2 linked regions of the Homo sapiens genome follow. The protein of the gene in region 1 purifies or fractionates together with the protein of each later gene. This does not show direct contact. Each region holds a gene or a part of one and is shown in the gene's direction. Other genes may lie near its edges.

Region 1 (3,500 bases):
GCTAGATGCTCAGGAAGACAAAGTCAGTTCAGTTGTGAAAGTGTGTCCCATTGTGAAGAAAAACAATTCAATAAAAAAAAATTTTTTTTAATTCCAGAAATAACTTCATCAAAGATTGCTTCCAGAAGACAAGATGGAGCTAAGGATTTTACATAGTCTTTAGTTCTTAGAATAGAATATCTCCCCTTAGACTGCAATTTGAATGTTTGGCTTTTCAAGAAAATATGGAAATAACTATTCCTTTTGTGAGACTTATTGAGAATATTAATGGCAATCAGAAATTAGCTTGCTTGATACCATACTCTTCCATACAACAAACATGAGATTGATCTTCAGTTATATAAGTTTTTGTTCTTTCTTTTTTAGATTAAAGTTGTGGATCCAAAAACAAAAAACTGTACAACATTAGCAGGAACTGGAGACACAAATAATGTTACCAGTTCCAGTTTTACAGAGTCAACTTTTAATGAACCAGGAGGCTTGTGTATTGGAGAGAATGGAGAATTATTATATGTAGCAGACACCAATAATCATCAAATTAAAGTGATGGATTTAGAAACTAAAATGGTATCTGTGGTAAGTAATTTTAAAATATAAGTTAAAGAATGTGGTTTTAAGAATGATACTAAGATCCTCACAGCACTGACAGAGGCATTTTTGGTTAGACCATCTCCAGGAGAGTATTAAGTGGATGCTTCTGTTGTATTCTTTGACAAAGAGACCAGCAGGACTGCTTTAAGGATATCCTTTTATTCTTAAAATAAAAGTTCCATCTGTGCTGAGAGTTTGAGAAAAATACTGGAAATTGGAGATAATCTAATGAACCTTCAAGAAAAAAAAAAGGAGAGGACTCAGATCTGTTTTTAAGTGTACAGACATACTGACATACACTACATACACCTGCTCTGTGGGTTGGGTTATTTAGCTTATTGTTTTTGTTTTTTTTTTTTTTTCAGTGATCTTTAGATTAACATGTAACCTTTGTTTGCCTGTGATGAATCCATTACCAAATAATCTAACAAAAGCTTTAGAAGCCACTTTCTCAAGACATCGAAAATAAGATTGTGGAAGAAACTTAAATGAGTTATAGTCAGTTTTTAAAGATATGGACGTGGTTTCTTATAGAATTTTCAAGGGGAAATGTCTATTATAAACTAACTCTTGATGTATGACATTTACCTGAAAAAAATGCAACAGTTTTTTTCTGAAAAACTGGTAATTTGCACGGTATATTTTTAAAAGAAACATAGATTACTATTGCAACATAAATGTCATTTCTCTTCACGTAGATCTCTGATATAAGATGAATAACATCTTCTTATAGTTGACAATGAAAATTATAAGAAAATGTATATCTAGCATGTTTAAATTTATAAACTTTTGCTTTAATTTCCTGCCGTCTATATACATTGGACAGTTACTTTAATTCTGCCTCATTCATAAGTGTTGGGTTTTGTTGTTGTCGCTAAGATAAACTTTCTCTGTGTCTACGAAAATAATCTTGAGGGCATCTAACACATTCTAATTCAAACTAGAATGGCGATTAGTTTCATTGACATAGAACTTCATTATTCTACTAAAGTCTAAAAATATGCTCTCATTCTATAATTAATATAAAGTTCTTGTGTTTTAATAACAGATTTTCTTATTTCCTAGCTCCCCATCTTCAGATCTGAAAATGCTGTGGTAGATGGCCCGTTCCTAGTAGAAAAACAGAAGACATTACCCAAACTACCTAAATCTGCTCCAAGCATTAGGCTTTCCCCCGTGACTGCGTGTGCTGGCCAGACTCTTCAGTTCAAACTCAGATTAGACCTCCCATCAGGATCAAAGCTAACTGAAGGAGTATCCAGTTGCTGGTTTCTAACAGCTGAAGGTATGAGTATAAGCTTGCAAATACTAATACATCATATATTCTTGATGTTTAATCTAGTTATTTTTTATTTGTTAGGTGATATTTTTACTCTGTATAGGCAAGATTTGAAGATCATATGAACAAATGAATCCAGATCCAACCCCACATTGGCCATTTGCTTTACTCATCAAGAGTCTTTCTTCCCTTTTATTAAAGAACAGTGTAACTCACCAAAAGTTACAAGTCAGTTGTTAGCATGATTTCTTGGAATGTGGGTTTTCCTATACCTCATCCCTTATTCTGATCCTGTTCTTCATTCTATTCTTGTTCCAAAAAGAATCTTAGAGTTAAAAAGTCTGAAATAGAGAAAGTGGAGCCCTCGTATTTAACATCTTTTTCTGTGACTCTTCCTTTCAGTCACTCTTGGGCATTCCTCCCTTTCTTCTATTTGTGAATCACAGTATGAGCTAGCTCCTTATTTCATTAATCTATGGTAAGGAATCAGTATACTGCTTGCCTTGCAGTATGCATTCCAACATCTGTAACCTGGTGGACAAAAATTTTAAAGTGAAATTTTAGTGGTTCAGAACTTCTAAATTACAACTTGTCTCTAATGATATTCCTCTGTCCTGGTCTCCCACGCTCTTTCACACTTTCTCACTCAATTTTCCATTTCCTTCCCAACTCCTCCTCCTTCATACCCTCTCACACACTTTTCTTTTGTACATTACCCAAATCCTGGGTAATTCATTCCTTCTTACCTTCAACTTTCTCAGGGCAGCAGCCACTGGCCTGCAATTATAATATCAACTTAGTGTCTAAACCAAGAGGATAACGGTATCTTGGTAGACTGGCTGGGAGGAACTGCTGGTTAGTGTTTGGGAGGCTGGTTCTAGGGTGATTGAGTCTGTAGGGAAACCACCCCTTGTCACTTCCCACAAGGGGGAAGGCTAACCATGTACTAGGACCTTTGGAGCTTGCTTTGTAGACAGAAGAATACTCAAACCCTGGCCACTCCATAGCCTTTTGTAGGTTCAGAGCAAGTTCTAGACTGCCAATTTAAGTCTGGAAGTATTACATCAGTTGGAGAACATTAATTTTTCTCAGTGTAACTGTAAGAGCAGTCACTGTTAGAGCAGTGTATTAAATGGTGTCACTGTAGGAGCAGTGTACTAATTTTTAAAATAGGATATTGACAGATTAACATTGGTCTGCATTGTCAGACACACTAATTAATATTGAGTCATTGGGATATAAAATACAGATAGTATTCAAATAAAGTAGTCTATAGAGACTTTATCTAATTTGTCCAAGATATGGGCCCCATTTTTATTATATAGTAGCAGATAATTTTCAGGCAATAATCCTAATAATTTAAGGTTTTTGAATATTATAGAGTACATTTGTACACTTATGTTTAAAGGACATTTTCTCTTTTGGCTTGTTATTTAGAAACACTTATTTTTAGCCAAATTTTGGTCTGTATAATCTTAAAGAAGTTAGAATATATGCAAGTTTTAAGCCAAAAAAAAAAAGGCAGCATAAAAGCACCACATGTGTTGTAACTTCACAAATTGTGTGTGTGATATATATGACAAATATCTAAAGAAACATTTTCTGTTTTATTTCTAGATTTGGACATTAA
Region 2 (3,500 bases), on another chromosome or scaffold:
ACAAGAGCGAAACTCTTATGTCAAAAAAAAAAAAAGTTTATGCCAAAGTGCAGATCTCTTTTCTCTTGGTGGCCAGTAGTTGTGTATGTTGTGGGGTATGTGATAGTTCTTTGATCGGTTTTGGTAAGGGCTCAAGAAGAAGGGGCTTGAATGAGTGTGGTTTTGAGATTGTGGTGAGTGAATGCCTTGAAGGCCACTGATTTTTGTGTGGCAGATGTTGAGCTCTTTTCTGTTAGGTGCAGGAAGGTAGGTTAGCATTGAAGGGTGCATGAAAGCTCTGATCAGCCTGTGTTTGGCTTAAATGCCAGTCATTGGTGGAGGTAAAGGATGAACCCGTGTTTCAGCATCTACACTCCACCATTAATTAGCATTGTCAGTTCTTAGAATGAGTCTGAATCTGCTAGTTTGGTTTGCCTTCTTTCAGTTTAGGCAATTGTATTCCTAGACTATGAAGATTTTTGTTTTTCTTACTTGGTCCCCAGATGTCAGTATTGAATATGGTGGTGAGGCGTGACCCTGGCAACACTGAACCTGTGAAAGCCAAGGAAGAGCTCATATTTCACTGTGGATTCAGGCGCTTCCGAGCCTCACCTTTATTCTCTCAGCACACTGCAGGTTAGCAATGGGGAAGCTGGGTTCTTGTCCATCTTGTCTTTTGGGAAAGTGACTTGTGGTGGAGGGGTGCCAAAATATATGGTTTCAAAATCTTACATCTCTGGGTTAGAGGTATTTTCAGTACTCTGGCTTAAGAGCCAATGATGTTTTTATTCAAAATGTCTGAACCTGTCTGAAGCATCCCAGTGATGCAACTTCTGTGTGATACTGAGGCTTTTTTGCCATGAGTATTTGTTCCATAGCAGGTTTTGAATAGAAGTTGGCAGCTTTATAAAAAGGGTATTAGGGTGGGTGCAGTGGTGCAGTGGTTCACACCTGTAATCCCAACACTTGTGGCATTAGAACGGGGAATTGAAGACCAAAAAAGGTAAGATTTAATCTTGTTTTTGTTTCTGTTTTTTTTTTTTTTTTTTTTTTTTTTTTGAGACGGAGTCTCACTCTGTCGCCCAGGCTGGAGTGCAGTGGCGCGATCTAGGCTCACTGCAAGCTCCGCCTCTCAGGTTTACTTACACCATTTTCCTGCCTCAGCCTCCCAAGTAGCTGGGACTACAGGCGCCCGCCACCATGCCCAGCTAATTTTTTGTATTTTTAGTAGAGACGGGGTTTCACCGTGTTAGCCAGGATGGTCTCTATCTCCTGACCTCGTGAGCCGCCCGCCTCAGCCTCCCAAAGTGCTGGGATTACAGGTGTGAGCCACCGCGCCCCCTCTTGTTTTTTTTGTTTTTTTTTGTTTGTTTGTTTGTTTGTTTTTTTGGAGACGGAGTCTTACTCCGTTGCCCAGGCTGGAGTGCAATAGCGTGATCTCGGCTCACTGCAACCTCCGCCTCCCGGGTTCAAGCAATTCTCCTGCCTCAGCCTCCCGAGTAGAGTAGTTGGGACTACAGGCATGCACGACCATGCCCAGCTAATTTTTGTATTTTTAGTAGAGATGGGGTTTCACCATGTTGGGGTTTAGTAGAGATGGGGTTTCACCAAGACCAGGAGTTCAGGCTGGTTTTGAACTCCTGGTCTCAGGTGATCCGCCCACCTCGGTCTCCCAAAGTGCTGGGATTACAGACATGAGCCAATGTGCCTGGCCTCTTTTTTTTTTTTTTTTTTTTTGAGACCGAGTCTCACTCTGATGCTCAACTGGAGTGCAATGGTGCAATCCAGGCTCACTGCAACCTCTGCCTTCCAGGTTCAATCAGTTTTCCTGCCTCAGCTTCCCGAGTAGCTGAGATTACAGGCACCCGCCACCACGCCTAGCTAATTTTTGTATTTTTAGTAGAGACGGGGTTTCACCATGCTGGCCAGGCTGGTCTCGACCTTAGGCGATCCTCCTGCCTTGGCCTTCCAAAGTGCTGGGATTACAGGCGTGAGCCACTGCGCCTGGCCAGTCATTCTTTTATTGTTTCAAAATGGTTTTGATTTTTTTTTTTAGGATGAACTATTTTCATATTTTATACAGTTGGGAAAATAAGGAATAATGTAAAAGTAAAATTACCTTATATTAGAGAAAATTCATTTTTATTTTATACATTTTCATCCAGATCTCATTTTTTTTCTTTACACAATTTGGATTGTAATTGTAAATATGGTGTTAAACATTGCATTTATCACTTAATTGATTTTGATCAATTTTCCATAAGATTAATTAGTTAATGAGACTTTTAATGCTTTATTGTCATTTGGATATATTCCAGTGTATGTGATGTACTGATACTTATTTGAGCTTCTACGGGTGAGCACTTAGGCTATTTCTAATGTTTTGCTCTAAACTAGATCTGTATGCATAAAACTTTATTTACTTCTTTGCTTATTTTGTAAAGGCAGATCCTTAGAACTGGAACTAAATAAAAGTCTCAGTTGCAGAGACTGAGGCAGGAGGATCGCTTGAGGTCAGGAGTGTGAGACTCCGGTCTCTACAATTTTTTTTTTTTTTTTTTTGATATAGAGTCCAACTCTGTCACCAAGGCTGGAGTGCAGTAACATGATCTCAGCTCATTGCAGCCTCCCCGTCCCAGGTTCAAGTGATTCTGGCGCCTCAGCCTCCCAAGTAGCTCGGACCATAGGTGTCTGCCACCACGCCCAGCTACTTTTTGTATTTTTAGTAGAGATGGGGTTTCACCAAGTTGGCCAGTCTGTTCTCAAACTCTTGACCTCAGGTGATCCACGTGCCTTGGCCTCCCAAAGTGCTGGGATTTATAGGGATGAGCCAACATGCCCGGCCTCTACGAAAAAAAAATTTTTTTTTTTGGGAGATGGAGTTTCACTCTTGTTGCCCAGGCTGGAGTGCAGTGGCAGGATCTTGGCTCACTGCAACCTCTGCCTCCTAGGTTCAAGTGATTCTCCTGCCTCAGCCTCCCAAGCAGCTGGGATTACAGGCGTGTACCACCATGCCTAGCTAATTTTTCTATTATTAGTAGAGATAGAGTTTCACCATCTTGGCCAGGCTGGTCTCAAACTCCCGACCTCAGGTGATCCACCCGCATTGGCCTCCCAAAGTGCTGGGATTACAGGCATGAGCCACTGCGCCCGGCCAAAAATTTTTCTTTTTAATTAGCCAGGTGTGGTGGCATGTGCTTTGCAGTCCCAGCTACTTGGGAGGCTGAGGCAAGAGGGATTGCCTGAGCCAGTGGGCCCAGGAGTTTGAGGCTCCAGTGAGCTGTGTTCACACCACAGCCCTTAAAATATTTTATTTTCCTATAAGTTTAGTATTTTTAAAAGGGGGGTGAGGGCTACATTGAAGGTAGAACACCAAATACAGTCTAGCCTAGATAGCAGAGTGAGACACTGTCTCTCAGAATTTAAAAGGGTGTGATAAAGTGTGGAAACTTTGATGTCTAGTGTGCCAAGGGCAGTGTGGGTGAAGGAATGGAGGCTGGGTATGGCTCATAGTTGGGTAA

The links. The genes of interacting proteins can lie anywhere in the genome.
Region 2: the proteins of NHLRC2 (region 1) and TSR1 purify together in Homo sapiens (affinity purification with mass spectrometry, with the first as the bait; one large-scale study listed by BioGRID). This does not show direct contact.

The regions. Positions count from the first base shown.
Region 1 is NC_000010.11:113,903,161-113,906,660, forward strand, and holds part of NHLRC2 (NHL repeat-containing protein 2), read left to right. Parts: intron 1-366; coding exon 367-576; intron 577-1,656; coding exon 1,657-1,876; intron 1,877-3,500. UniProt on the Homo sapiens protein: Required for normal embryonic development.
Region 2 is NC_000017.11:2,326,458-2,329,957, reverse strand, and holds part of TSR1 (pre-rRNA-processing protein TSR1 homolog), read left to right. Parts: intron 1-482; coding exon 483-615; intron 616-747; exon of another isoform or gene 748-833; intron 834-3,500. UniProt on the Homo sapiens protein: Required during maturation of the 40S ribosomal subunit in the nucleolus.